Linked DNA regions of Homo sapiens. The protein of the gene in region 2 purifies or fractionates together with the protein of the main gene of each other region. This does not show direct contact. Each region holds a gene or a part of one and is shown on either strand. Other genes may lie near its edges. The genes, in order: VPS13A, PPIAL4G, PCDH20 and FAT3.

What was found.
Region 1: the proteins of PPIAL4G (region 2) and VPS13A purify together in Homo sapiens (affinity purification with mass spectrometry; 2 studies listed by BioGRID and IntAct, with this or other methods). This does not show direct contact.
Region 3: the proteins of PPIAL4G (region 2) and PCDH20 purify together in Homo sapiens (affinity purification with mass spectrometry; 2 studies listed by BioGRID and IntAct, with this or other methods). This does not show direct contact.
Region 4: the proteins of PPIAL4G (region 2) and FAT3 purify together in Homo sapiens (affinity purification with mass spectrometry; 2 studies listed by BioGRID and IntAct, with this or other methods). This does not show direct contact.

The regions. Positions count from the first base shown.
Region 1 is NC_000009.12:77,172,745-77,181,137, reverse strand, and holds the start of VPS13A (intermembrane lipid transfer protein VPS13A), read right to left. Parts: upstream 3,605-8,393; 5' UTR 3,434-3,604; coding exon 3,334-3,433; exon of another isoform or gene 3,221-3,333; intron 1-3,220. UniProt on the Homo sapiens protein: Mediates the transfer of lipids between membranes at organelle contact sites. Binds phospholipids. Required for the formation or stabilization of ER-mitochondria contact sites which enable transfer of lipids between the ER and mitochondria.
Region 2 is NC_000001.11:148,481,935-148,488,020, forward strand, and holds PPIAL4G (peptidyl-prolyl cis-trans isomerase A-like 4G), read right to left. Parts: upstream 1,369-6,086; 5' UTR 1,319-1,368; coding exon 824-1,318; 3' UTR 614-823; downstream 1-613. UniProt on the Homo sapiens protein: PPIases accelerate the folding of proteins. It catalyzes the cis-trans isomerization of proline imidic peptide bonds in oligopeptides.
Region 3 is NC_000013.11:61,412,355-61,420,716, reverse strand, and holds the start of PCDH20 (protocadherin-20 precursor), read left to right. Parts: upstream 1-4,867; 5' UTR 4,868-5,558; coding exon 5,559-5,690; intron 5,691-6,750; coding exon 6,751-8,362. UniProt on the Homo sapiens protein: Potential calcium-dependent cell-adhesion protein.
Region 4 is NC_000011.10:92,220,103-92,228,039, reverse strand, and holds the start of FAT3 (protocadherin Fat 3 isoform 1 precursor), read right to left. Parts: upstream 3,223-7,937; 5' UTR 2,866-3,222; intron 1-2,865.

The DNA.
Region 1 (8,393 bases), on a different chromosome or scaffold from region 2:
ACTCCAGCTATTATTTAAAGTTTCATTTATCAAAACATAACCAATTTCTATAAATAAAACACTGACATGTTATTTTATTTTATTTTGAGACAGAGTCTCGCTGTCTGTTGCCTAGGTTGGAATGCAGTGGCATGATCAGAGCTCACTGTAATCTCAAACTCCTATGCTCAAGCAATCTTCCCGCCTCAGCCTTCCAAAGTGCTGGGATTACAGGAATGAGCACCACACCTGGACAATGACTTGTTATTTTTTAAATTATTTGTTAAAGACTAAAGTTAGAGGGATCACATTACCTGATTTCTAGACTAACTACAAAGACACAGTTATCAAGACAGTGTAGTATTGGTGAAATGATAGACACACAGATTGAGACAGACTAAAGCCACACAATATTAAGTCTACTGATTTTTTTTTTACGAAATGCAAAGATAATTCAATAGAGAAAGGATCCTCTTTCTTAGCAAGTGGTGCTAAACAATTGGATATTTGCATCCACATGCAAACAAATGAACCTCAACCTTCAACACATATCACACACCTTATACAAAAAGAAATCCAAAACCTAAAACTACAAAACTTCCTTAAGAAAACACAGGAGAACATCTTTGACTTTGGGTTGGGAAAAGATTTCTTAGATATGAATACCAAAAGCCATGATTCATAAAAGAAATGTTTTATAAACTGGGCTTTTCCCAAAATCAAAAATGTATGCTCTGCAAAAGACAAAATGGGAAAAGACTGAGAAAGTATTTTCAAATTACATATCTGATGAAGAAATTGTATCCTTAATATTTAAAGAACTCTCAAAACTCAACCATAAGAAAACAAACACTCTGGAAAAAGAGTTTGGCTGTTCCTCAAAAGGTTACACAAAGTCAGCATATGACCCAGCAATTCCACTTCTAGGTATATATCCAAGAGAATTTAAAACATACATCCACAAAAAAACTTGTACATGAATGTTCAGTGGCATTATTCATAATATCCAAAAGGTGGATGTTTAGGAATAATCTAAACATCCAGCAACTGGTGAGTATAGATAAATAAATTGTGGTCTATGAATATAATGGAATATTATTCAACCCTAAGAGCAAATGAAATAGTCATACATCCTTCAACATGGAGGAACCTTGAAAATACATTAGGTTAAAGAAGCCAGAAACAAAAGGCCACATATCATATAATTCCATTTAAATGAAATGTCCAGAATTACCAAATCCATAAAGACAGAAAGATTAGTGGTTGCCAGAGGTGGAGTAGTGAGAAGGGAGGAAATTGGGAGTCACTCCTAATGGACATACGATTTAATTTTGGGGTGCTGAAATATTCCGGAATGAGAGAGTGGTGATGGTTGTACAATTTTGTGACTATACTAAAAAACACTGAATTGTACATTTTAAAAGAGTGAAATTTATGGTATATGAAATAAATCTCAAAAAAAAAAAAAAAACGTACAACCCAATTTAAAACCACTCTTAGGTATTTATCCAAGAGAAATAACAATTATGTTCACACAAACACCCGTACGTGAATGTTTATGACGGCTTTATTTATAACCTCCAAAAACTGAAATATTCTTCAACCAGCAAACAGATAAATACTTACAGTCAGGCGGGCGCAGTGGCTCACGCCTGTAATCCCAGCACTTTGGGAGGCAGAGGCAGGCGGATTACTTGAGGTCAGGAGTTTGAGACCAGCCTGGCCAACATTGCAAAACCCCCTCTCTACTAAAAATTAGCCGGGCGTGGTGGCGGGGTGAGATCAACTGCAAAGGAGCAGCTGAGAGAATTCGGGAGGCTTGATGAACCTTTTATGTGCCATTATTGTGGTGGTGCATACATGCCTCTTAGCATTTGTCAAGACAGAACTGTATCACAAGAGTGAATTTTACTGCATGTAAATTTTAAACAAATAAATAAGTTGATTAATCACACTCTAGACAAACCTCCACCCTGAATGTGGAAGCAAGACTCCACTACAGATCAAAGTTCACCTCAAGTATTCTTAAGGCTTCCTTCTGAGGTACATGGGAGACAAATTTTATTTTCACTTTGCAACTAAGAAGCAGCATAAACAGACTGCAAGTTTCTTGTACTAATCAAACAGGCTGAGCAGCTATCACTATATCCCTAGCTTTTGTAGTCCACTCACTCTCCATCATGATACTAGGTCCCCACGGTAGTAACATTCTTTAAAATCAAACTAAACTACCTGTTTACATTATCTCATAAACGAGAAGAGTCAAGGTAAGTATTTTAGAAGAAGACTGGAAGTGTGTGCACAGACAAGAATAAATTACTTTAAATATATATTTAAACACACACACTTCACACACAAAATTAACCCTCACTTTGGCCTGGGAAATTCATTTCACAAAGGAGTCTAATTTCTAGCGGGTGTTTAAAATAAACAAGCGCATAATGCAAAAACAGATGGAAACACTAAAAATGAGGCTCTCACTAAGGCAGAATACCACACTAAACGGACACAAGGAAAGCTCGGTCCTTCACCACCTAGGCAGCGTAGGGCCCTGTTCAGCCCGGTCTTTTGCAGGTCTGAGACGTTGCACCGCACGCCCTGGTTTTTCTTTAAAATTCGGCAATTCACTCTGACCCACATATCCTAAAGTCTTGAAAATGTTACACATTCCTAGGTCAGGCTGTTAACTGCAACCACACAAGCAACTGTTTGAGTTACTTTGCACTTGAGTTTCCTTTTTGTTATCCGCCGAACCCAGGCGAGAGAGAGCCGGCGTCCGGGTCCTAGGGCCGGAAGGGGGAGAGCAGAAAGCACCACGGGTGAAGCCAGGAATTGAGGCTGGGGAAGCAAGGAAGCGGGCGTCCCCGGTCACAGCGCCCTGCCTTCACGTGCGAGGCAGCATGCAACACGCGGGGGATTTCTGGGGCCTTCGTCATAAACCCAGGGGGGCAAAGGACAGGGATGGGACCCAGCCCAGGAAGGCGTCGTCTCGCCTCCTCGCCCCGCGCGGCTAAAGCCGGACCGTGCGGGGCCAGGGGTAGAGAACGGCCCCTCGCCGGGACTTGAACGCCAGACCCACGGAGCCCACGGCAAGTCCGCTCCGCTCGGAAAATATAGACCTTTTCATCCCGCACTCATGACCCTCTCCTTTCCCCCAAAATATAAACAACTCGAGGGCGGAGGCCAGGGAACTGCCGCCCGGCTTTACGTAACTTGACCCACAGGCGGGCGGCGGCAGGTGGCTGCACCCGGCGAGCAAGGTGCTCGAAGCCCCGAGAACGCAGGACGCCGCTCGGGCAGCGAGACGGCCGGGAAGCACGAGAGGCCGGGGAGCGGCGGCGGCGGCCTCCTTACCTTTCCAGATGCCCAGAGAGAGCTGGGACGTGTCCAAGTCCACCACATAGTCCCCCAAGAACCGGTTCAACACGTCCACGACCACCGACTCGAAAACCATGTTCCTCAGCCGTGGTGGGCACGGCAGCCGGCCCGTGCGCTCCTCCTCCCGCCGCCTTCCCCACGCCCCTCCCTCGAGGTAATTCGGTTCACCGGCTCCGGGGCGGCTTCAGCTGCGGCGCCCCCGCTGGCCCAACGCGCAGCCCTAGCGAGCCCAGCGAGAGACGGAGGCGGTCGCTCTCACGACGCGTGCGCAAGTCTGCGCGCGGCTGGAGGCGGAGCGCGGCGCAGACCTGGGCGCGCAGCCCTGAGAGGGAGGAAAGGCGGCTGCGCGGCCGCGGCTCTGGAGGGTGCCCTTTTCGCGCCGAGCCCGGCTCCTCTTTCCTGTCGGCCCCGCCTCCTCCCCATCGCCTGGCAACGGGACACCGGTCTGGAGCTACCGGATTTTTTCCGACCCCGCCCCCTCCTGCAGATCAGCGTCCCCAGCGGCCCCCCAGGGCGGGGCGGTTACGCCCGACGGGAACGCCCCTCCCCCTAGAAGGTGGTGGCCGCTTCCACGCGTATGACAGGGCTCGCCCCTGAGTAAGGGTGGGCGGATCCCAGCCCCGTCGCCAGAAGCTTCAAGGGGGCTGTCCCAGGGAGCATCTCCCCTCATCATTACAGGGTGGGAGGGTCCAGCCAGCCTGGGTGTCTTGGTGCCTGTAACCTCCCCGCCTGGTCCTCCGACCGCCTGGCTCTCAGGAGGAGTTAACTTCCTGCTGCGAGTCGAGGATGGAGTTACATAGTCCCTGCCCTGCATCTGAGATGAGCACCCATTTTTGGTCAAGTCATTTATACGGAGCTGTCTTTCATTCCAAAGAGTAACACGCTTCCCTGCAGATAAGAGTTGGAGTCAGCCGGTCTGGAAACTGCTGAACACCCTCCAAGAAATACTGGGAGTGCTGGACCCTTGACCCCTATGCCTCCACCGAACCACTGACCTAAAATAAATTACAATTACAGATCTTTCGACCTGTTTGGTCTTACTTAGAAGTAATCCCAAAGGCCTGAGGTCACAGAGATGCTAAATGTGAGGTTTAGAGAACTGTAATTAATCATCTGCAGGACCGAAAAAGTGTACATTGAGCGTTTTCTCTTTACACGTTAAATGAATAATGATGGATTTCTATTAATTCCTGTGTCATTTTACTACTTTTTGTGCATAGTCACCGACTTTTCAAAATTAAATGTTTAGGGTGTGCCTTTGCAAGTAGAATGCCTGACAAAAACTGTAAGTTTTTACCTGAGTTTATGAATGTTTTTCATATAATTTTATATTTGAAGGACCTTTATGAGGTCTCCAACCTCCTAGTCTTAAATATAATGAAGCTGAAGTGTTAGGGATGTGTGCAAGGTCATACAACCAATGTTCTGTGGAAGAACTGGAACTTGGCCCTTCTGATTGGCTACCACCCCACCTGCTTCTCTCTCATTCAGCTAACAGTCTGCTTCAGAATACCTGCACGGAGAAACGAATAGAGGCTAAAATGCCTAGGAAGGGGAAGAGCTCTACATAATGAGGCATTTTGCCATTGCACTATTAATAAGAAGCCAGATACACAGTAGCTGCAAAATTCCGCTGTTATATCTAGCGCTGCAAATTCAAAGTTACAAGAATTTCCAGAACTCCAAAAATCCATCTTAAGTATCTTGCAAACGTTTTCATATTAGTTTTCTACGATCTAGGAAAATTTTGTGGAAGTGAGGAAGGGGAAGGGATGTTGCTGAAAAGTTAGAGGTATAAGCATAAAGCAATGAAAAAAAATTCTGCTGAGGAAGAGTTAGAAATAAGTGGATGCATATTGTAACCGAATTCTTATCTAGTGTTAGATGTATATGAACATGCTTTGTAAATACTAAAAGACAACATTTTGCATTCAGTCTTTGCATTGCTTAATCCATCTAAGGAAGTTTGTAAGCAAAAATATATTAACATCATCATGTAAAAGGTATGCTCATTAAACCATTAAACCAAATTTCTGTTGTACCTTGAAAAATAAGCCCAATGACTACCATAAAAACTCGAGTTTCAAATTAGGAAGTATGTCAGTGTATGTTATTCTTTCTCTAGATCACAATTAAAATGCTATACTTCATTGTTTGATCAAATGGAAAAACAAAAGAGGGGGAGAGCATCTGAATGACCCCAAACTGCAATATCATCTAACTTTACAATAAATCTCTAACTTTGCAAGTAGGACTTGCAGTTTTATGTATACCTTCCATGCCACAGCTCTTCGTCTTTAAAGTTTTGGTGTACTGGTAGTAATCTTGGAATTTTTTTTTCTCCTAATCTTAATTCTTTTGTCCACAAGTAAATGTCATTGGTGGGCTGCTTGTCCTTATCATTCCCCATGGGCATTGTGGTAGCAGGCTAGATGGCCAGATAACAAAGCTGTTGAAGCAGACCACAAAGCTGTTGAAGCAGAAGATGTCCTGGAGGAACAAGTGTAGAAGATGGCCGTTTTATAGGTATGGGACTTTTACTGATCTAACTTCACAGAGCCCTGTGCTCCATCTGTTTATGCTTTAAAAATTTTAAACAATAAAAAGTTATTTGGAGCCTGGCATGGTAGCACATGCCTGTAGTCCCAGCTACTCCAAGGGTGAGAGGATCCCTTGAGCCCAGGAGTTTGGGGCTGCAGTAAACTATGATGGTGCCACTGCATTCCAGCCTGGGTGACACAGTGAAAAAAAAAAAAAAATTCTTTAGACCATGTGTTCCAATCCTTAATAAAAAGAGAAAAATTCACTGGAAGGGGAATACAAGCAAAAAGGTAAAAACCTTATAAGAATCTTACTTAAGGCCAGGCACAGTGGCTCATGCCTGTAATCCCAGCACTTTGGGAGACCGAGGCAGGTGGATCACCTGAAGTCAGGAGTTCGAGACCAACCTGGTCAACATGGCGAAACCCCGTCTCTACTAAAAATACAAAAAAAAAAAAAAATTAGCCAGGCATGGTGGCACACACCTGTAATCCCAGCTAGTCAGGAGGCTGAGGCAGGAGAATCGCTTGAACCCAGGAGGCAGAGGTTGCAGTGAGCCAAGATCACACCATTGCACTCCAGCCTGGGCAACAAGAGCAAAACTCCATCTCAGAAAAAAAAAAAAAAAGAATCTTACTTAAGCAGGGCAGGGGAAAATGTAAATTGTCACAATATTTCTAAAAGGCAGTTCCTAAACATTTACAAACTGACATAGTACATATGTGTATATATATCAGCGTACATACATATATATACGTACATGTGTATATGACGAACTCAGCAATCCCACTTCCACAGATTTACTCTAAGAAAATAATTATAAAAATCCAAAAAATTATTCCCACAAGAACTTTTTTTTTTTTTTTTTTTTTTTTTTTTTTTTTCAGAAAGAGTCTCGCTCTTGTCACCCAGGCTGGAGTGCAATGGTGCGATCTTGGCTCACTGCACCCTCCGCTCCCAGGAGGGTTTAAGCGATTCTCCTGCCTCAGCCTCCAAGTAGCTGGCATTACAGTCGGGTGCCACCACACCCGGCTAATTTTTGTATTTTTCAGTAGAGACAGGGTTTCGCCATGTTGGCCAGGCTGGTCTCCAGCTCCTGACCTCAAGTGATCCACCCATCTCGGCCTCCCAAAGTGCTGGGATTACAGGCTTGAGCCACCAAGCCCAGCCAAGAACACTATTTAAAGCATTGTTTATAATAGCAAAAAGAAATGGAAACGACCGAAATATCCATTAACAGGGAAGCTGGTTAAGTAAACATACACACGTAGTGGGTTACTATACAGGCATTAAGATGATAATGAAAGTCTATACTAGTGTGGAAGGATGTCGATAATATATGCTCATGAGAAACAAGGTGCAGAATAGTATCCCACTAATTATACAAATTGGTGAGTTTTTAAGTGTGCAGAGCATTTACATACAGAAAGAAATCTAGAAGTATGCTCACCAAATATTAACAGTGGTTATCTCTATATGGTGAGACTTTTGGCAATGTGTATTTTTTCTGTTCTTTCAAGTTTAATTTTTTTGTAGTGAGCATGTATTATTTTGCCCTTCTAAACTGGTGAAGAAGATGTATCAGAAATGCTATTATGTTGTATGTTATCTTATAACTCTCTGGGAAAACTATGTATGCACATTGATGAATTGCTGTGAGCGGGTTCTGAACCTTATCGGATAATTGATAGACATGGATGTGAACTCTCAAAAGCCTACCAAAAGACATGAGCAGACATTTCCTGAAGAGTATATACAGATGGAAACAAGCGCATGAAAACATGTGCAACATCATTAGCCATTGGGGAAATGAAAAGTAAAACCACAATGAGATATCAGAATATCTTATCATATTATATCTATCAGAATGGTTGGAAAAAATAGTGACAATACCAAGGCTGGTTAGGATACTGAGAAACTGGATCATTTATTCACTGGAGGTGGGGTTGTGAAATAGTTAAGCGCTCTGGAGAACAATTTGGCAGTTGCCACAAGAACTAAACATGCACTTACTATATGACCCAGCAATTGCACTCCTGGACATTTATCCCAGAAAAATGAAACCTTATAGATCACACAAAAACCTGTACATGAATAGCCAAAACTTGGAAACAGCCCACATTTTTTTCAACTGGTGAATGTTTAAACAAACTGTGGTACATCCACACTGTGGAATACTCAGCAATAAAAAAAGGTGAACTATGGATACATGCAACAACTTGGATGGATCTCAGGGGAATTATGCGAGTGAAAACATGTATTATTATATTTGTGAAACACTCTTGAAGTAACAAATTTATAGAGATGGAAAACAAATTAGTTGTTGCCAAAGGTTAAGTATAAGTAGGATGGATAGGTGCGGCTACATATGGATAGCAGGAAGGAGCCTTATGTTTATGACACACTTCTGTATCTCGATTGTGGCAGTGGTTATATAAAATTGCATTAAACTACACACACACGTAAGTGCATATAAAAGTGGAGAAATCTGAATA
Region 2 (6,086 bases):
TTAAAAATTAAGTTAATCACCCTCAATAAGCCCTGTTTTAAAAAGAGGGATAAATGGAGAGGAAAGAAGGAAAGTTGTTAAGATACATAAGTATGCACAGGACAATACAAGAGAAACAATGTGTTTGGATGTCAAGGCTCTCCTTTCTGCAAGTGGCCAGCAGGTCACTATTGGCATCTATGGCCATGTGCCCTCAGCTAACACCTCTGCTAGTCAGGGTTTTGCCTTGTGAGATGACCAAATATTCATTCCTGACAGAGAAATGTCCTTGATAATCTTTTTGTGTGAGCGTGCCATGGTCATTGTTAATTTCTTTCATTTAACAAAATAATAGACTTTATTTTTTGAGCAGTTTTAGCTTTATGGAAAGATCGAGCAGAAAGTACAGAGTTCTCACATACTGTCACCTTTATCCCACCCCCAGTTTACATTAGGGTTCACTCTTTGTGTGGTACAGGTCTAGGAGTTTTGCAAAACGCATAATGTCATGTACCCATCATTACATTATTACCAACGTATTTTCAATCCCCTAAAAATCGCCTGTTTCAGAACTATTTATCTCCCTACCCATCCCCAAACTCCTGGCAACCACTGAGCTTTTTTGTTGTTGTTGTTGTTACTTAGTTTTTATTTCATAATCATAAACTTAACTCTGCAATCCAGCTAGGCATGGAAGGGAACAAGGAAAACATGGAACCCAAAGGGAACTGCAGCAAGAGCACAAAGATTCTAGGATATTGCAAGCAAATGTGGTGGAGGGGTGCTCTCCTGAGCTACAGAAGGAATGGGTCTGGTGGTGAAAATAAAACACAAGTCAAACTCATTAGAATTGTCCACAGTCAGCAATGGTGATCTTCTTGCTGGTCTTGCTATTCCTGTACCCAAAGTGCTCCATGGCTTCCACAATATTCACACGTTCTTTCACCTTGCCAAAGGCCACATGCTTGCCATCCAACCACTCAGTCTTGGCAGTGCAGATGAAAAACTGGGAACCATTTGTGTTGGGTCCAGCATTTGCCATGGACAAGATGCCAGAACCTGTATGCTTTCGGATGAGGTTCTCATCATCAAATTTCTCCCCATAGATGGACTTGTCACCGGTGCCATTAGGGTGTGTGAAGTCACCACCCTGACACATAAACCCTGGAATAATTCTGTGAAAGCAGGAACCCTTATAACGAAATCCTTTCTCTCCAGTGCTCAGAGCACGAAAGTTTTCTGCTGTCTTTGGAATCTTGTCTGCAAACTGTTTGATGGAGATGCGGCCCAAGGGCTTGCCGTCGACGGTGATGTCAAAAAAGATGACGGAGTTGACCATGGCTGATAGTACAGGGCTCACAGCGATGGCGGCGTCTGCAAAGATAACCACTGATCTTTTTACTGTCTTTATAGTTTGGCCTTTTCTAGAATGTCGTATAGTTGAAATCACAGTATGTACCCTTTTCAGACTGGCTTCTTTCACTTAGCAAAATGTCTTTGTTTTTTCTGTATCTTTTTGTGGCTTGATAGTTTTTTCCTTTTAGCACTGAATAATATTCCACTGTAGGAATATACCACAGTTTGCTTATGCAGTCACTCATTGAAGGACATCTTGGTTGCTTCCAAGTTGTGGCAGTCTTCATTTCTTTCTTTCTTTCTTTCTTTCTTTCTTTCTTTCTTTCTTTCTTTCTTTCTTTCTTCTTTTTTTTTTTTTTTTTTTTTGAGACAGAGTCTTGCTCTGTCACCCAGGCTGGAGTGAAGTGGCACAATCTCAGCTCATTGCAACCTCTGCCTCCCAGGTTCAAGTGATTCTCTTCCTCAGCCTCTGGAGTAGCTGGGATTACAGGTGTGCACCACCACGCCTGGTTAGTCTTCAGGAATATTTACAGGACTGTATAGAATTAGGAGCCATCAAAGGGGATCCCTGAATTCTTTCTGTTTTTCTTACAAATACCAGTTTTAAGGTCAAGATTTACTACCCCATGCAACAGTGTAGCCGCATTTTAAATTTTAAATTTTTGACTGTTTCTTTAAAGGTCTCAGGCAACCTAAAAGGCTAGATAGAAGTCTCTCATCCTCTAACGAAGGATGGATTGTAAAATGGAATACTGCTAAGACTCTCCCTTTGGGTACTAATTCTGCAAAAACCTAGAATCTCAGAGACAAGAGATAAGTATTTGGAGTGGATCATTAGATGTAATGACAAAAGGAGTCACTTCAACATTCATAACAAATATCAAAGATTGTTGTATTTTTTATATGGGAGACACCAGACAAGCTTATACTTAGTTACTAGTTCAGAGGATACACCACCACATCCTCTAGCATGAGTACAACCTTATAAGCCATTGTCTCCAGCTGGCACTGTGATTGAGTCTTTAATAAAATATTCACCATTCTATAATAATAATAATTTTGGTTAGTGATAGGATAAATGGTGGACCAGGTGAGTCCAATGAATATCTACTCATTTGTTATACAACAAGTTCTTTTAATAGAAGGATGTAGAACAGGATATTATGGCAGTATATATAAGGCATTCAATGTACCCGTGGAGAGTGGCGATCAGAGAAAAATGATGTCAGGTAAAGCAAATGTAATTCAAGGATAAAGGTAGATTCCATTTACAAAATTCCTTGTTGCCTTTATCATAGAGGAGCTCCAATAAAATCAACAAGTCTGACAAAAGGTGACTGGTTTATTCACCCAGGATATGTTATTGTGTGCTTAGCCTTGGACTTTGTTGCTTGTGTGTTGGACACCTAATAGTCTTGACAGCTAAATAGGCTTTTGTAAGCGAGAGTGGTAAAGTCCAACATGTTGCTAAACCTATGTGTATTCTCTACTGCTACCACCAATGTTGCTGTTTATTAGCCTTCTGAGCAAGCAATGTAGTGCCTGGTGAAAGAGATTGTTTCATACCTTCATATCTATTTGATAACCTTCCTGATGATAGTTTGGTGAGCATTCGTATTAAGCACAAATATTCTTACACTCTGGCTCATTTTCTGTGGTTCATCTACATACTTTTTCCCCAAAACTCATTGCCACCAATCCTTCAGTCTTTGTCTTTCTGAGTCCCTAATTATCTTTTCTTTTCTTTTTTTTTTTTTTTTTTTTGAGACAGAGTTTCGCTTTGTTGCCCAGGCTGGAGTGCAGTGGTGCAATCTTGGTTCACTGCAACTTCTTCCTACTGGATTCAAGAGATTCTCCTGCCTCAGCCTCCCAAATAGCTAGGATTGCAGGCACACACCACCACATCTGGCTAATTTTTGTATTTTTAGTAGAGACGGAGTTTCACCATGTCAGCCAGGCTGGTTTCGAACTCCTGACCTCAGACAATCCACCTGTCTTGTCCTCCAAAAGTTCTGGGATTACAGGTGTGAGCCATCAGGCCTGGCCCCAAGTCCCTAATTATCTAGACAAATTATTAGCTGCCACATATACATCAATAATATCTCTCCTTCTAGACATCGTGGACAACCAATTACATAGGCTGAATTTCTTTTAAAATTGCATTCACGTAGGTTATAATGCCTAAGCAATCTACTTTTGGCTGCTGCTGTGATGTTGTACAGTGACTTCTGTAAATCAGGCTCAATTTTTCCCTCACTAATCAACTGGCCATAGAGAACTTCCCATGAAGACATAGGTATAGATTCTATTATTCCTACCTGCTGATGAAGCAGGATAGTTAATTGGAAAACACTTATTTCATGATAAGCAGCTCATGTTTTCATATTTTTTTTGCATTGATAGGACTTCAGTTTCTACAATGGTCCAGGATCAATCAAGAGTTCTTTAAAGAAAACATTTATTTTGTCAAAGAAAGAAGCATTTTGTTCCAAATCCTAAGAACAATAGTAGTGGTGTGTCAGAGGCTCTATTGCATCTGGATATAAAAACAAAGGGGCACAATATTCCTGACCAGTTGGGAATTATTATCTTGATCTCAATCCCATCAAAATGTGGCAGCATGACAAGTCATGAAGTAAAAGGCCCAGGTGATAAAATGAGGTCTCCAAAATCCAAAGCATCAAAGTTCTCAGTTAGTGGTCAGGGCTGCAAAGTGCCATAATTTTGCACTTTGGAAGGTATATCTTGAGAATATTGAGTGTATGAGACAAGTTAAAAGGTCATGCAGCCAGACGCGGTGGCTCACGCCTGTAATCCCAGCACTTAGGGAAGCTGAGGTGGGCGGATCATGAGGTCAGGAGTTCAAGACCAGCCTGGCCAATATGGTGAAACCCCATCTCTACTAAAAATACAAAAATTAGTGGGGCATCGTGGTGCCCTCCTGCAGTCCCAGCTACTTGGGAGGCTGAGGCAGCAGAATTGCTTGAACCCTGAAGGCGAAGGTTGCAGTGAGCTGAGTTGGCGCCACTGCATCCAGCCTTGGCAACACCGCGAGACTCTGTCTCTTAAAAAAAATAAAAAAATAAAAATAAAAAAATGTAAAAGTTCATGATTAACACCTCTGTTAGCTTCTGATCTTTATAATAATTATCACACACACACAAACCAAACACCACACATAGAGGAAACAGTAAAAGATTAAAGGACACAGCTAAAAATACATTTGTATTATTACTTCCCAAAGTTCTAAAATTATCAGAAGGGACTAGTGAATCTTTAAAAAATATTGATTATCCAACACTTTTTAATAACCAGTATAATTGCATTGAAGGCTACTGAACATGCACATGTTCCTAAAATTTTTCTGTTATGGTGTCTGGTTTGCGAAAGGAACAAAATTAAACATAGTTCCTTGGCAATTTTTCCCTCTTCCACTCTACTAATTGGCGTATGTGCGATGTGTGTTTATTGTAAAATAGGAATAAGATTCAGAGGTCAAGAATCAAAGTGAGTCAGAGTAGGAAAAGCCAGACTCAAGCATAACAGAAGGGCAGAGCCTGTCAAACCCCAAAATTAAAGGGTAAATTTCAACACAAGTAGAAGTGGTTCAAAAGCTAAGGGCATCCTCATAGTTCATGAAAAGCAAGTATTCACGCAGGTAGCAGACTCTAATCTGCTTCAAGCCAATGTGCTATTCTCTTCGTGTTATTTATATCCCTCAGAATACCTCAAAGTTCCCAAGAGCAGTCAGTATTTAACTCTAAACTATATCATCTATATATTTATTATATATAATATATATATTTATTATATGTATAATACATATTATATATTTATTATATATTATATTTATATTGATTATATATAATATATATATATATTTATTATTATATATTTTTTTGAGACGGAGTTTTGCTTTTGTTGCCCAGGCTGGAGTGCAATGGCGCTATCTCGGCTCACCACAACCTCTGCCTCCCAGGTTCAAGTGATTCTCCTGCCTCAGCGTCCTGAGTAGCTGGGATTACAGGCATGTGCCACCACGCCTGGTTAATTTTGTATTTTTAATAGAGAAGGGGTTTCTCCATGTTAGTCAGGCTGGTATTGAACTCCCATCCTCAGGTGATCTGCCTGCCTCGGCCTCCCAAAGTGCTGGGATTATAGGTGTGAGCCAACGTGCCCAGGCAACTATGTAATATTTTAATTGTGTAGTGATAACCCTCATCAAAAGAAGTATTCATTATGGTCAGTGTACTCTGCTTATTTACCACTGAAGCTTAACACAAAATTGTTGAAATAAACATGCATATTGAAGTACTTAGCTAGCTATTGAGGCAATACAGGTTTCTAGATTTACTCATTTTTTTCACTGTACACACATGTCATGTGTGTCATGATAAACCCATGTGTGTGCATATATTGATTAAATATTATATTTCTTTTTACTTTTATTATTATTATTGAGAAAAGGTCTCACTCTGTCGCCCAGGATGGAGTGCAGCGGCACAATCTCGGCTGCCTGCAGCCTTGTCCTCCCAAAGCCCTAGACCCTGTAACATAATAGAATATGTATGTTTCTAATTTGTGCAATATGGAAGCAGGAATACTACATAGAACTGTCATCTTTTCCTATTGCATTTATTTTGGTGTGGAAAAATATAATAATTGGCTTCAGTCAGTAAGTCTATTTCATTCAAGAATATTTAAATATAATCCAAACCATCTTAGGTACATTTTGTGATACAAGAGGATGG
Region 3 (8,362 bases), on a different chromosome or scaffold from region 2:
CCCATGTATAAGTTGCACAGTACAGCAGTAAATGTTTTAGAATACAAGTTTTATAGTAAATTAGCTCATTTGGACCTTCTTCTTGCAAGTGTGTAAATGTATGTTTATTTACTGAATTAACTGTCCAGCTTTTTTAGCAAAAGGCCTCACTGCTGATTCCCTGTTAGTCTCACTATTAATTTCTGAATCGTGTAGGGAAATGAAGTAGGATTTTTTCAGTTTGTGTGATATACTTAAAAAATAATTAGTACTTCAGTAGTTACTTAAAAATATTTGTAAATATTTGTAAATTTGAACAATGAATAAAATAAAATAAAGTTTAGAGTAACTCTTAAAATCAAGGCTTTTGATCTTAACCGTAGATGGTTTAAAAAATATACTGTTTTTACAGGTTATCCTCTAATATCAGAGCAATTGTGAGGTTAAAATCTAGTACTATTATAAGAAATGGGAGTATTTTCATAATTTGAGTCAGCTATAAGTCATCTTTCTTACTGTCACCTAGCATGTAAAATGAGGGCTAACTAGGTGATCCCTAAAATTATCCAAAGCTTTTCAGTACTTTCAAGTATACACACAGCTATACACACATTATATATTTTACATGTATACATTGGGAGATTTAAGTTAGCCACACAGCTTAGACAAGTTATATCCATGTGTATGTATCTATTTACGAAGTAGTAATGGACTAAAGAATCCTTTCCTTCGAAAAGGCATCATATAACACATCTATGCCTCCAATTTTTTTTATTTTAAATGAGTGATAAATGTTTGTTGAATAGAAATACATTTAAATGTGTGTGGGCCCTTTATTTTCCCATTCTGATGAGAAAGGCATACCAGAGTAGAAAGATCACATATTTTGAAGGTCACAGATCAGGCTCTGGACTAGCATGTTATGTATGGCTATAAAGCTGGTATAATAATAACTATATTATAAAACTGCTGTGAGGATTAACTAAATTACATATGTCAACCACCTAGTAGCATGTTTGAAACATAATTGACACTAGGTAACCAATCTATCATTTCTCAGGTATTTTATTGGTTTTTCAAATGTAATCATCCTTTTAACCTTGATGATTGAATCAAAAAAGAATACAGATATAATATTTCATTGTATATATATTTATTATATGTTATATTTATATGTGGTATATTTTACACTTTTACATATGTACCTATATATTAATAATATATTTTGTGTACACATGTACATATATTTTAATTCATCAAAAGGGACTTCTAATTTTAAAAATTCTATTAAGACAAAGAGAAATGGCCTTAAAATAAGGTAATATTCTAAACTTATATTTATTTGCAATTATGAATTAACCAGAACATGTACACGGTTATGGTTCAAGATAGTTTTAAATATCTGTGTATATAGTGATTACATGAAACTTTGTGTATACCACAATATTATTAAACTAATCTAAATAGTGGAAATAGATTTAATTGAGAAATACAAATAAAACTACCTGTAAAGCATAGTGCTTCAAAAATTTTTTTTAAAGATTTAAAACGTAAAAAGTTTACAGATGGTATCTTTTTTCCTCATCTTTTTTTTTTTTGAGATGGAGTCTCGCTCGCTCAGTAGCCCAGGCTGGAGTGCAGTGGTGCGATCTCGGCTCACTGCAAGCTCTGCCTCCCGGGTTCACACCATTCTCGTGCCTCAGCCTCCAGAGTAGCTGGGACTACAGGCGCACGCTGCCACGCCCCGGCTAGTTTGTTTGTTTGTTTTTTGTATTTTTAGTAGAGATGGGGTTTCACCATGTTGCCCAGGCTGGTCTTGAACTCCTGAGCTCAGACCATCCGCCCACCTCAGCCTCCCAAAGTGCTAGGATTTCAGGCGTGAGCCACCGCGCCCAGGCAAAGATGGTATCTTGATATATACTTATAATCTTGCTCACATCTTTGTAGTGGAGATAATAAAATTACAAAAAGAAGGCTTGCAGTAAATGAAAAATAGTATGTTTTAGTGATAGAATGCAATAAGTAATAATCAAGTTAACCCGTGTATCAGCATGCAGTGTCTGTTAATGCCAGATATGAGGTAAGCAATTTCATGCATATACGTGCATGAAGTGTGTAGGGGTCTTTTTTTATGAAATTGAAACAGAGAAGTTTGATGACTTGTCTAAAGTCACACAGAACTTAGCAACAACCCAGAGAATGTAATCCACTCCTCTGGCTCAGCTCAGTGCACCGTCTATTGTATCCTGCTGTTTTCCTTGTCTATAGGAAAAATAGGCTTGGGAGGCATATAATCTAACTATTCTTCTAGATCGATTTTTACAAAACATGTGGGAAGCAGGCCCAGAGCAATTGAGACGTCTAAGAAGTTCATAAGTATTATTTTCAAGGGACTAATAGCATAGAAGCTTTCTGAGTCATCGTTAGAAATATGTGACACCAGAAGGTAGGTCGCAGGCTGGCATCATAAGGAATAAGAGTTTGGGAATGCTTTCACAAGGCCCAGAGAAGGGATACATGGGAAGAAAGATGTCTATTTAGTCCTTTTTATTTTATTTAAGCCCAATTAGGGTATAAACATTGTGTAAAACCTTTGGATTTTCAGAGAGGAAAGATAATAACAAGTAGTTCAGTGAATGGTTTGAAATGCGACGTGGAAGGTATTGTTCAATATTATGCCAAGATCTCCCAATCTTGATGACAAACTTCCATGCAGGGACTTTGCAATCACCGTAGTCACTTAAAGCAAATGTGGTTGTTAGTGTCGTTCCAAACATTATTTTCAAGATGTGTTCAATACTAGTGTTTCAACTTACATGAAGAACTTTTGCTATAATTCATGTTTATGGTTTTTAGAAACACTCTAGAGAATAATTATGGCCAAATGGGTATATTTAATTTCTTTTCAACTTAATAAAGGGAGGTGTGGTAATAACCCTTTCCACAGAGACCAGCTGGGTGATAGGGTCAGAAGACGAAGATTCTGCTGGTGTAGGCTGGGGGAAACACTTTAAAAAGGAAGTGCATCTGTACTACAAGCAACCACTGCAAAGTAGGGAAAGGGAGAGTAAGGGGCCAGGGAAAAGTAAAAACTTGAGATATAATTACAAAGAGAAAATGTCACTTCACCTGGACTATCATCATAAACAACAGCTCCTGTACAATGTCCTTATAACAAAGGAAAAATGAAGAAAATAGCTCCCTACGTTTCCACCAAAAAGGTGGATGATCTTAACTTGTTGCAGAGGGCATGAGCTGTGAGCGGATAAACAGCCCACTCTGCTGCTCTGTCTCTGGGGGAGAATTGTTGCAGACTGCAGGTTCTCTGACTGCTGACAGATTGCCTAACTCTGGCCGTGGGCCTCCAACTTCGGGAAGCTGTGGGTATTGTATAAAGATGTAAGTTAAACACGTTTCAGAAGCAGCTTGGTACTGATTTGGGGAGTCAAGTATGTTTCAACTACAGACCTCAAAGTAAATATTTACTAATATGGCAAAAGTTCAGCTGTAGGGCAGAACCAGCAGCTAAAAAGCACAAGGAGGGAGATCATGCTTCCCTGGCTGCAGCTTGTTTACCAACCTTCAACTCAGATGTGCATGTTCCTTTGAGTGTGTGTGTGGGGTGGGGAGGAGGTGGAGTGGGAGAGGGGTAGGGGGGTGAGGGGTGGGGTGATGGTGATTGGGGGCTGAGGTTTACCACTTCATCAGTGCTCCATTTTCACTGTAAAGGGTTTGAAGGAACTGATTTTACCAGCCAGGTTCAAATTGTATGCCAAATTTGTATTATAGAGAGACTTGTGAACTCCATGTACAGCCCCATTTGCACAATAACAAGCTGTTACCCTCCAGGTGTTTTGATGTAGTGTGTTGTCCATATTTAGGACTCTGTGTTTAGGATTATTAGAAATGAGGAGAAAATAGGAAGGATAGGAAGCAAAACAGTTAGCTCAGCCAAGCAATTTATATTCTAGTTAGCATTTGGTGGAAGGGGAAAATTGAAGTAGTTCCTACAGAAAGCATATGGAAATCAGGTATCAAAGACCTTTTTTCACTCTAGGCTCAGTCACTGGTCATTCAGCATGTGAGGTTTTATGTTCAGGACCCTGCAGAGGATATCTGGAAGCCTAGCGATGAAGAGAAATGTCTTCTCAAGGAAAGGCCGAATCATGGGCTTTTCCATTACTTACATGGCAACCTGCAGATCAAAAAGTGTTTCAGAGGCTTAATGCACTGGAGTATCCCACTAGCCTTGATTTTATAAATGAGGAAACAGAAGGCCAGGAGTTAGGTGACTCCAGGTTACATAGCTATTCAGTGTCAAAGCCATAGAAGATAGGCAATCATTTGGCACCACACTCTTCCACAATTCCTTTATGAAGGACCAGTTTTCCAGTAGGCAATCCAGGAGAAAGAAAGAGAGAGAGAAAGGGAGAGAGGCAGGGAAAGAGGGAGAGAGTGAGGGAGCGAGGGAGCTAGGGAGTAAGGGAGGGAGGGAGGAAGGAAGGAAGAAAGGAAGGGGGGAAGGGGAAGAGGGGAAGGGGAAGGAAGGAAAGGAAGGAAGGAGGAAAGGGGGAGGGAAAGAAGGGGGAAGGAAAGAAGGAAGCAGGGAAGAGGAAAGAAGGGAAGGGGGAAGGGGAAAGAGGGGAGGGGGGGAGAGAAGGAAGGAAGGAAACAAGGAAGGAAGGACTAATTTGAAAAATAACCAATGTTTTACCTAGGCTTCAGTGAATACCTCCCCCTCCCCACACCAATTTACCGCTTAGATAAATATGTTTAAGATTACTTGCAGGCAGAACTACTTGTGTTACAGCACAATTGTTTCTACTTTCCCCTTGGCTCTTCCCCGCATCCAGAAGCCACTACTGCCTCTAAAATAAGACCACAAGGCAAACACCCAGAGACATTTGAGCCTCCAACTAGGAAACTAGCAGAAGCTCTACCACTGCCCACAGCAAAGATTCAAAATTGGGGTATGTCGAAACCTTCACTGAATTCATATATTTACTTTTCCGGTTCACCCTACGTTACACAGAAGTTGAGATTCCTTCCCTCCGCTGAGAAAAGTGCATTTTCTTTCTCTGTGCCAACACTGCTGGATCCGAGGCTCCAGGAGGAACTGTTGGCAAAGCAGGCGTTTTGGGACCGCGCCTGTGATTGCTCTGTGGCGCCGACTTCCTCTCTCTGTTACATCCATATACAAATGCAAGCTTATTTATTTATTTTAATTCTCCCTCTCTTGCTAGCAACCTGTGGACTTGGCATCTGACTGGTGCGGCAAGGAAGGAGGCTGGTAGGTAAGCGCTACTGTGCCCAACCCCGAGCTGCCTCTTCGCAGTCTTCAGGAGCAAGTCCCCCATTCCAGCTCCTCTGGCAGAGTATGGAGTTACCTGCGTCCGGGGCAGGAAACCATGAATGTGCCCTTCTGCCCTCTTGCCTTTCTGCCACTCTTTGAGTTCCCGTCCTTAATTGAAGAGCCAGTGACTATTGGCTGAAGTTCCCCCAGCGATTTGCATGAACCGAGAGGGAGTGTCTTCTGCCGCCCTCCCTTCAAGAGCGCTCTGACTGCAGCCTCCCAGGGAATGCGCGGCCGAGGGAATGCGCGCAGCTCACAGGCCCTGGGAGTGAGCTGGTGCCCGGCGACCTGGCACCCGCGCCTGGATATGGGGCGTCTACATCGTCCCAGGAGCAGCACCAGCTACAGGAACCTGCCGGTAAGGGTTAGGGTCAAGGAACCCCGCGACCCCGACAAGTTGCAGTATTGTGAAGCAATTCCCACTCGGATGGTTTTTCAAACCTTCTACCTTTATCTAAACTTCACGGGAAGGATGGCGCCGGGAGGGAAAGGGAGTTTGGGATAATGTGTCTTCCTTTTAACAAGGAATAGGGAAGTCCGTGGGTCATGAGAGGAAGTTTCTGAAGCAAGAAATGTATCCAGATAAGGTCGAGGGCATCGGGGGTGCGCTCAATCCGCTTTAGCTACAGGGGTTCGGGATCGTTTCCTGCTGCTGGCGTCTGGCTATGAATGCCTACTGCAATTGACAAATTGTTTTTGCATAGCCATTTTCCGCGTTTACTTTGCTTCCCCCTAAGGGAGGGGGATTAGTGACTGCTTGGTAAGGGGTGGAAATCCAGATCCTTTCGGTTTGATTTCAGATGTGTGCTAAAATAAAAATCACTCTTTCCGACCTAAGACCTAAAGTGTTGGAGGTGGAGGAGGAAGTGTTGGTATTTTTTCTATATTATTATTATTATTGCGATTGTGGTTGTTTTTATGGTTCTCTTAGTAAGGGATGTAACACACTGCGTGTTCCAGCACTCTAATGGCAGAATCACTTCAAGGAGAAATAAATTGCCCACCTTTCAGTGCTCTCTACTACCAGCCCCCTCCCTCCCCATCACCTACCCTGGGTTTCCGTGTCGCTTTGCGCAGTCTCTGAGTCGGAATCCTCTCCACTCCGGTGTGTGTTTCCAGGGATGTTTTACGGTTTGGGATTCTGAATGTTAGCTGGATGAGGGTGGTGATGGGGAAACGAGGGGGGAAGGCGGGGGCGGAGGGGATAGAAAGTGAACAGCAAAATTAAGTTTTGGAGACGATATTGCCCCACAGATCTCTCCTTCGCAGCAGGGTTCTTCTCCGCCCCCGTTCTAATTAGAGGTTTTGCTTCTGGGAACGGGGATGGGGACAGCAAGGATCACAGGGGCGCTAGTTTCTCTCTCGGACCCCTATTTCCCCGTGTGTGTAATGAGCTTTCTTCCCTCCCCCAACTCCAGCATCTGTTTCTGTTTTTCCTCTTCGTGGGACCCTTCAGCTGCCTCGGGAGTTACAGCCGGGCCACCGAGCTTCTGTACAGCCTAAACGAGGGACTACCCGCGGGGGTGCTCATCGGCAGCCTGGCCGAGGACCTGCGGCTGCTGCCCAGGTCTGCAGGGAGGCCGGACCCGCAGTCGCAGCTGCCAGAGCGCACCGGTGCTGAGTGGAACCCCCCTCTCTCCTTCAGCCTGGCCTCCCGGGGACTGAGTGGCCAGTACGTGACCCTAGACAACCGCTCTGGGGAGCTGCACACTTCAGCTCAGGAGATCGACAGGGAGGCCCTGTGTGTTGAAGGGGGTGGAGGGACTGCGTGGAGCGGCAGCGTTTCCATCTCCTCCTCTCCTTCTGACTCTTGTCTTTTGCTGCTGGATGTGCTTGTCCTGCCTCAGGAATACTTCAGGTTTGTGAAGGTGAAGATCGCCATCAGAGACATCAATGACAACGCCCCGCAGTTCCCTGTTTCCCAGATCTCGGTGTGGGTCCCGGAAAATGCACCTGTAAACACCCGACTGGCCATAGAGCATCCTGCTGTGGACCCAGATGTAGGCATTAATGGGGTACAGACCTATCGCTTACTGGACTACCATGGTATGTTCACCCTGGACGTGGAGGAGAATGAGAATGGGGAGCGCACCCCCTACCTAATTGTCATGGGTGCTTTGGACAGGGAAACCCAGGACCAGTATGTGAGCATCATCATAGCTGAGGATGGTGGGTCTCCACCACTTTTGGGCAGTGCCACTCTCACCATTGGCATCAGTGACATTAATGACAATTGCCCTCTCTTCACAGACTCACAAATCAATGTCACTGTGTATGGGAATGCTACAGTGGGCACCCCAATTGCAGCTGTCCAGGCTGTGGATAAAGACTTGGGGACCAATGCTCAAATTACTTATTCTTACAGTCAGAAAGTTCCACAAGCATCTAAGGATTTATTTCACCTGGATGAAAACACTGGAGTCATTAAACTTTTCAGTAAGATTGGAGGAAGTGTTCTGGAGTCCCACAAGCTCACCATCCTTGCTAATGGACCAGGCTGCATCCCTGCTGTAATCACTGCTCTTGTGTCCATTATTAAAGTTATTTTCAGACCCCCTGAAATTGTCCCTCGTTACATAGCAAACGAGATAGATGGTGTGGTTTATCTGAAAGAACTGGAACCCGTTAACACTCCCATTGCGTTTTTCACCATAAGAGATCCAGAAGGTAAATACAAGGTTAACTGCTACCTGGATGGTGAAGGGCCGTTTAGGTTATCACCTTACAAACCATACAATAATGAATATTTACTAGAGACCACAAAACCTATGGACTATGAGCTACAGCAGTTCTATGAAGTAGCTGTGGTGGCTTGGAACTCTGAGGGATTTCATGTCAAAAGGGTCATTAAAGTGCAACTTTTAGATGACAATGATAATGCTCCAATTTTCCTTCAACCCTTAATAGAACTAACCATCGAAGAGAACAACTCACCCAATGCCTTTTTGACTAAGCTGTATGCTACAGATGCCGACAGCGAGGAGAGAGGCCAAGTTTCATATTTTCTGGGACCTGATGCTCCATCATATT
Region 4 (7,937 bases), on a different chromosome or scaffold from region 2:
GCATCACTCATTGTTCAAGTTCCAAAAAGGCAACAACTGAGATTCATGATTGAATATCAACATTCGGTTTAATTCTAAGAGACAACTTTTCTCCTTGTAAAATGTTAAAAAAAAAATAAAAAAAACTTCCCCCACTCCAACCCTATTAAATAAGAAGCACATCAAAGTGCTAAAGTTATTATGCTTTTTTTTTGTCTTTGTCTCTTAGAGCCCTGGTTTCCTTGGCTGTTCCTTATTCTCTCACTGTTCAATTGCTCCAATTTAGGAATAAAGAAAAAAAAAAAAAAGAAGAAGAAAGAAAAAAAGCAGAAGCAGTTGGCTTTGTGCAATTTCTAGGATTCTGAAGAATCTCAGTCTCTCAAATCTCTTCTCTCTTCTCTCCTCCATCCCCTCCTCCCTTCCTTTCCTTCTCAGATTCAAATCTCCACGTCACACCAGAACATCATTCAAGCATTCAGTAAATGTGAAGAGAAGTTCAGTGTCTGCTGGTGGAGAAGAAATCTGGGCTCTGTTTGATCGATACTGAGATGTGGGCACCTCGGTCCTCAATTCCTAGATGGCGGGCTTCCCCTTTCCACCACCTGAGTTTGCCGCCTGGATCCAGGCAAAGTCGTCTGCAGTCTTTCTGGCCGCTTCTCTGTCTCTCTGCTTTTATTTTAACTTAGCCTGGGCACAATCAGAGAATCTAATCCTAGCAACAAAGCCAGGAGCACAAATCCACCGTGATGAACTGGTAGGCCTGCTCCCCCGCCCCTTCCTCCCACTACCCCGGACTCGCCTTTGAAAAGACTAGCGTCGGGGCCAGAAAATTAATATGTCCGAGGCAAGTGGGAGAAAAGCGGCAGAAAACAAGTGGCCACGAGTGGTTTGGGTTTTGTTGCTGTTCATGTGTATCTTTTAAACATTAAGGACCCACGCACAGGAACCCCAGCCGCTCAAGCCCCGGGTGGGCGCGTCGCACCTCCCCAGGCACTGCCCAGACAGCTCGCCCCCTCCCCCTGGGCGCCCTCCCTAGTCTGGCTGGGGCCGGGGCGGGTTGGGGGAGGTTCTCGCGGGTTTGTCTGACACTTGTAAATGGAAGTGGGATCCAACTTGGAAAACAAACGCGCCAGAGTCTGGGGGCGGAGAGGAGCGGGAGGAGGGGAGAGGGGGGAAAAAGACTTCAATCATTACCGCGGTCCCAGCGTCCCTCCCTCCCGCCGCGGCTGCTGCAGGTTCGCCCAAACCCGAAGCTGAGTCCCATTGGGCGCGCGGCGGCGGCGGGATGGAGCTGGAGCTCCCGGCCGAGGCGCTAGGAGTCCACCAGATTCCGCGTGCCAGAGCCACCGGCCGCCCACGCTCCGGGCCGCAGGCGCCACTCCCTCCCGGGAGCCCCTCCTAGTCCTTCACGGAGACCTCGCAGGGTCTCCGCAGCCTCCCCGCCCCCGACGTCCATTCCGGGGACCCCTCTCCACCGCCTGGTTTGAGCCCATTATTCCAGCGAGCTGCAGCCTCAGGATGTCACCGCCAGCACACCCACACCCCGGGAGCACCCCTGTTCCTCTCATCCCGAGCAACCCAAGCGGCTCTCTTAGCTCGCAGCCAAACTCCGGCCACCCCTGCATCCTTGCCCCAAGCACGCCCCCGCCACCCCCCGCCCACAAGAGGAGAACGGTGGAAAGTGAATAAAAGTTGCTTTCCGCAAAGCCCAATCATGTTCAATGTTAAACCATCTCGGAAAGCACATGTGACAAAAGTCAACGAGAGAGGAGAGGAGGGAATTCAGATCACAGCACAGCTAAAAATATCCGGGCTCGCCATCATGCAAGCCGGGGGGCCAGATGCACTTTAGCTCAGCGACTCCCACTGGCGGAATCCTCGCGCTCACCGCGCGCCGCGCCAAGATGGTCCAGGCCACCTCTACTGCCTCCCCGCCAGCGCCCCTCAGCCCCCTACACTTGCCCTGCACACACACTGGCCTGTAGAGGGGATTCGTCCCGAACCGCCCGGGAGTGGGGCCTGAGCTCGGAGCTGGTGCCCCTGGCGTTCTCGCCCCCAATCCGGAGACAGCTCCTCCGCACTCCTGGGGATGGTCAGACCCGCGCTGCTTTCTTTTCAAAGACAAGCAGCCTTCCCACACGCCCGCCAAAAATCATGCACTCTCGCAAAGCATTCCGGTTCCCTCTCCTTGTCAAGATAGCAGGGACAGTCTCTGTCCCCAACCACTCCGTAAAGGATGTCGTCCCCAGTCGAAGAGCCGCCGCCGCCGTTCACTACATCTCACCCTGACCACAAGCCCCGCAAGCCCGAGTCAGGCGTGGGGAACGGACCCGCAGACTGGTAACCCTTTCCCTTTCCTAGCGAAAGTGGAGGCTGGGCTCCCTCTCTGCGCCGCGCCTCGCCTAGCGATGACCCAACTTGCACCTCGGGGTCCCCTAAGTGCATCATCCATCGGCATCTGAACATCCCCCACTGCGCCCGAGAGGCACCGGCTGCCAAGCAGGCTCGCCACCTGAACCTTCTCATCCACCTGCAGGGGCGGCTGGGAGCCGGGGATGGGTGCACTGATCCGCAACCCCCCTCGCAACCCCTCCCCAGATCCTCAGCCCCAAACTTGGCCAACTCTCCGTGTAAACCTCCCGGCTCCCGCCGCGGGGCCAAGCCACCCTCTTCTCCTGTTTGCAGCGGTAGCAACGGCGGCTCGGGGCTGCGCGGAGGTTGGAACTTTACAAGGTGAAAAGTTTCCCCCACGCGCTTCGTCGGCTCTCGCCTCCCCAGCCCACCTCGCAGCCCATTTGCACCCAGCAGCTGAGGCTGTGCTCCGGCAGGCGCGCTCCAGTCGGTGCACCAGGCAGCCAAATCATCACGCTACAAATCCCCACGCACCCTTGCCTCCGCTGGCGATCCACGGCTCTACGAGGCGCCTCCCCCGTGGTCTTCTTCACCCGGTGCTCGGCGCTCTTGCTCCGGGCGAGCCGGTCCCCCGGCTGCTGCCGCCGCAGCGCCCACCGCGCGCTAGCCGGGACTGAGGCCGCGAGCAGAAGCGCTCTGCGCTCGGGACGCCGCCGCCGCCGCCGCCGGGGGTTCGCAAGCGGAGGAGGGGAGCCGAGATGAAGAGAACAGCAGCGGGAGGAGAGGGACGGGAGGCGCGAGATCCCAATCCGCAGGCCAGTTCACAGCGCAGCCTGCGGGGAGGAGCGCCGGCTCTCCTGTCTGCTCCGAGCTGCAGCCGCCGCCGCTACTGCTCGCCGCCTGGCTGCTCCGGGCTCCCCATCACAGCCGACGCCGACGCACGGCCAAGCCCCTCTCCAGTCTCCCCCTCGCGCTTGTCTCTCGCAGTCTCCTCCTCCCAAACCGCGAGCGAAAAGGGCGAGGGGGAGAGGAGCCTCGGCGGCGGGGATGACTAGCGATCTAGGAGCGTGGCGCAGGGGAGAGGGGGCGCGCGGGAGGGGGCGGCGGAGGAGGCGCGGCGAACTGGAGGGCATTCCCGGCGCCGGGCCTGGAAGCGGCTAATTTTAGAGCTCGAGTCTTCCCTCAGCCCTCTGGGGCTCTAGGATGACACCAACGTACTTTCCTGCCGCGGGGAGAGCGTGGTGCTTGCTGGCTTGGGAGAGCTTTCGCACAGTGCATTGAGTCTCACCCGCACCACATCCCTGTGAAGACAGAGAACGCGTTACTCTCCTGGGACAAAGAGGAAACTGAGGCACATCGAGGTTAACATGGTTTATATAACGTCCCAAGGCTAGTTTGTAGTGTGAAGATTAAACCATCAAATGTCGTGCCTCTGGACTAAAAATGTGCCTCCCAGTGAGGGCTCCTACGACTTTCCTAAACATTGAGATCCTGGGGTCATCCGATTGCCTTGTGGAGGAGGGAACTAGACTAAGCAGCTAACGTGGTCCAATCTCTTCACTCTTCCTCTGCCCCCAATATGTTTTAAACATTTTTTTGTCTTAATGGAGGACAGGGACTCTGAAGGGGTGGATGATTGATTTGGAGCTTGATGATTGCATCTCCACCCTGTCAGCCCTCCTGGTCACTTCTGCAGCACCCACCCAAGTCCTAGGACCCCCTGACTGCACGCCCTCCGTTCTCACACTGCCCCGGTGGAGAGGGGACTCCACTCGTTCCCTGCTCTGTGTATCCTCACACTTTTGCCTTTCTTTTCCCCCCAGCAAAGAAGCAGCCTTAACCCTCTCCACTCGCCACCTACACACACACACACACACACACACACACACACACACACACACAGAGAGAGAGAGAGAGAGAGAGAGGAGAGAGAGAGCTCAACTCACATATGTCTCTAAGGCAAGCACAGCTGGCGCATTTCCTCCTATGCTCTCTATCGGGAACTTTCTCCCCAACTCTACCATTGGCACCAGGAGAAAGGGACCCCAGGACTGCAGATCTCTTCCCCAGAGGAAATCGTTACTTTTTTTTGAAACACGAAATTCTCTTTGGAGGGCGAAGTAGGGCTGCTTCTAGAGGGCTATGTGCTCAATCACTAGAGCAAGCGCTTTAAAATGCCGATTGAGTTTACCTTTCTGGCCTTCGCGCTCCCAGCCTGGGACCTCTGCCCTGTTCACAGTTACACAAAGGCCTCGCCACGCCCCACGGGTGGAAAGTTCCCCTTGAAAGCCTCCAGCAGCCTCGCTGCCTTGACTGCCACATAAAGCACCCGGCATGCTCTGGTCATTCCGCCCTGAGATTTTAATGTGAATACTAAGGAACGGTGACAGCTCCTCATACATCAGCTAATTCGGGGGTAATAAGCATGATGTTACCAAGGGCTTCATTGTCACGGAAGGCCAGAAGATAGGTCTGGAGTGAAGGAAACCACTAACAGAGCTAGGAAAACTTACCTGCTCTCCAAAATGTTAGCATCTGATTAATTTTATTCTGATTTTAGTTTTATTCAGCAACTTTCTAAGGCACTAAAAGTTTATTGTCATATAAATATGTCCCTGGCATGGCATTTTCCTTGTGACAGAATGCAGCTAACTTTGCATCAAAGGTTTTAAAGAATCAAGGTATTTCCCACCTGAGTGCCTGGCTCCTGCAACCAGGCACTTTGGGTAGAGTCGGCTGGTGGTGGTTTGGCCACTGGGATGCTCAAGGAAGGAGTGCTGGCAAGGAGGCCAGGCATCTTCTACCTTCTGCCTGGGAAGACTGCCAGGTGATTGGAGGAGTGGCCACTTCTGCTGCTGGTGTAGCTCCTGGATTTCAGCTTCCCCAAATGTTCTTTAATGCCTCAGAGGTGCCTTAGAGATAAGTAGAGAAATCTGTCTAAATTTCAGCCTCCCCATCCCTAGGCAGTACATACATAATAAAGTAAACAGTCTCTACTCCCAGGGCTGACATAAGCCATTATAGCCTGTGGGTAAGAGACTTCCTGCAAAAATAGTAGAGTGGTTTATCTAATGGGACACTCCTCTGGTCATTTTAGATTTGCATAGCATTTACTATTCATTGTGCTAATAATTCTGATTGTATAAGGGGACTGTATTTTTTTTTTTAAAGTGCCAGCCAGACACAGTGGCTCATGCCTGGAATCCTAGCACTTTGGGAGGCCAAGTCTGGATGACCACTTGGGGTCAGGAGTTCAAGACCAGCCTAGGCAACATATCAAGACTCCACCTCCTCAAAAATTAAAATTAGGCCAGTGTAGTGTCTACATATAGTGTCTCATGTCTTTAGACTCAGCTACTTGGGAGGCTGAAGCAGGAGAATCACTTGAGCCCAGGAGTTTCAGGTTACAGTGAGCTATGATTGCCGCATTACACTCCAGCATGGCTGATGGATTAAGACTCTTTCTTTAAAAAAAGGTGATGTGGCTCGGGGGAGGGGTGCCACTGTGTCACTACAGTGGAAGGCATAGAGTTGATAAAACAGTGAGCTTTATGAAAGTCAAGAATCTGTCATATTTACATTTCTATCCCTGCATAAAGCCTGGCACACTCAATAAATATTAGTACATATTCAATAAATATTCAAATAATTAACAAATGGTGAAAACTTGGGAATTTTTTTATCAGACCCAATGATTATTGTATGTAGGACATTGAAGTCCTCATAGGAAAGGAACCTATAAAAAATTGCAGATCTATAATAAAATCATATTACTTGCCATGTATCACAGCCTCCATACACCACTTCAGATCATCTGGGCCTTACCTGTTGCTTTTAGCCACCACAGGAACAGCCAGTTCTAAGTGGGCTCTAACCAGCTTCACACAGGTATAATCTGAAAGTGCTTTGCTCTGGGCTCCCCTTGCATCTTACCCCCACCCAGGGCTTTTTAGTTGAAGTTACAATGTGAACCAAAACCTAGAAGCATGAGAGATTAAAGAGCCTATGGTGGGAGCCCATGGATAAATACTCCTCTTTCCATCTGCAAGGAAAGGATTCAGAAATGTGTTCCATGGAGCTTCTCTGGTGGTCTTTGCTAAACAAAGCAGCCATTCTCCTGAAGCAATGGCCAGCTTGATAACACATCCTTGTACTGGCGCTCCATCCTTCCCTGGTTCTCCCCATCTGTTCCTCACATGCTTCCTGGGATCACACTTCCCAAATAAAATATTTTCAGCAAGTCCTTGTATCATGCTCTATTTTCTGGCAATCTCAGGCTAAAACACCTACGACTAATGCTAAATACTTACGTCAAGGGACGGCCAAATGATTTTTCAAACTGCCCTATGAGGATTTTACTTTTAAACAAACGTGTACCCAAGGACACCTGTGTTGGGGACCTGTTGTACAACTAGAAGTTTTCTGAATCAATTTCAACTTAGACTGCAAGGTTTATTAAAAAGTAAGTAATTAAAATATGCTAATTTTGAATTTACATATATGTAATTAAAACTCAAAACAGTAACTACAGGAATTTTTTAGAACTTAGACCAAAATGATCTTGTTACAGAGGAATATTTTATCACTGACATTTTTTAGAATTGCAACTACAAAGTAATACTAAAAAAAAAGACTGATTTTCTTTTTAAATTCTCTACAGATAGTGCTCCCACCCACCCGTTTGCCTGCTTGCTGTGCAGATCTCTCCTACTGGCCCACCCTTGGTATACCACTAATTGTACTTGCAGGTGGCCTTCTTTGCCACTCAACTATCCTAAGGCTGATCAATTTCAATCCCTCTTATTTTGGAACAGCAACCAAACCAAACTTGGACACACTGAGGTACTCTATTTTCGGCAAGCAAATTGTCCTACTAACTGTCTTTATCCTTTGGGAAACTCCTTCTATGCCCCTGTTTTGGCTACTGCTTTCTTCTCTTTGGCTAGACAGAGAATAAACGTAATGTCAGAGACTCATTTTTAACACATCTATAATTCTATGTTCTTTAGGCCACTCCTTTTTCTCTTTCTTACTCATTTGTTCATTCACTCACCCATTCATCTGTTCAAAAATTATTTTTGAGCAGCTGTGTACTTGGCTCTCTTTTAAGTGTCGGGGATGTAATGATTAGCAAAAACTGATGAGATATCTACCCTTATAGATCTTTGGGCCAGTGGAGAAGTCATTAATCAAATGATCAAACAAAGAAAAGCAAAAGTGAGAAGGGCTACAACTGCATGATTCAAGTGGTTTAGTTAGCACCACTGCCGTTCCAATGAGGGGGAATTTTTATTCATCTCTCTAATTTATTTACAAGCTAAAGTTCAACACGAACAATGACTAATGAGCATAAAGGATATTTAGTGTTACACCTGTTATATGTTTTGACATAATGTTATAAATAAGGGCAAATGTTATCAAGTACCAAGTTATTAATAGTACCAGGATCCCACTTTATCATCTTTAGCAAAATTTTCATCCACCCTCTTGGCCTCTGATTAAACCTGCTTTTCTTCAAGTGTCTAGAGGATGGAATATTAGAGTTTTTCATTCAAAACCTCTGTTTTAATCTTACATGTAATTTATGATTTCTTATTGGTGTCCCT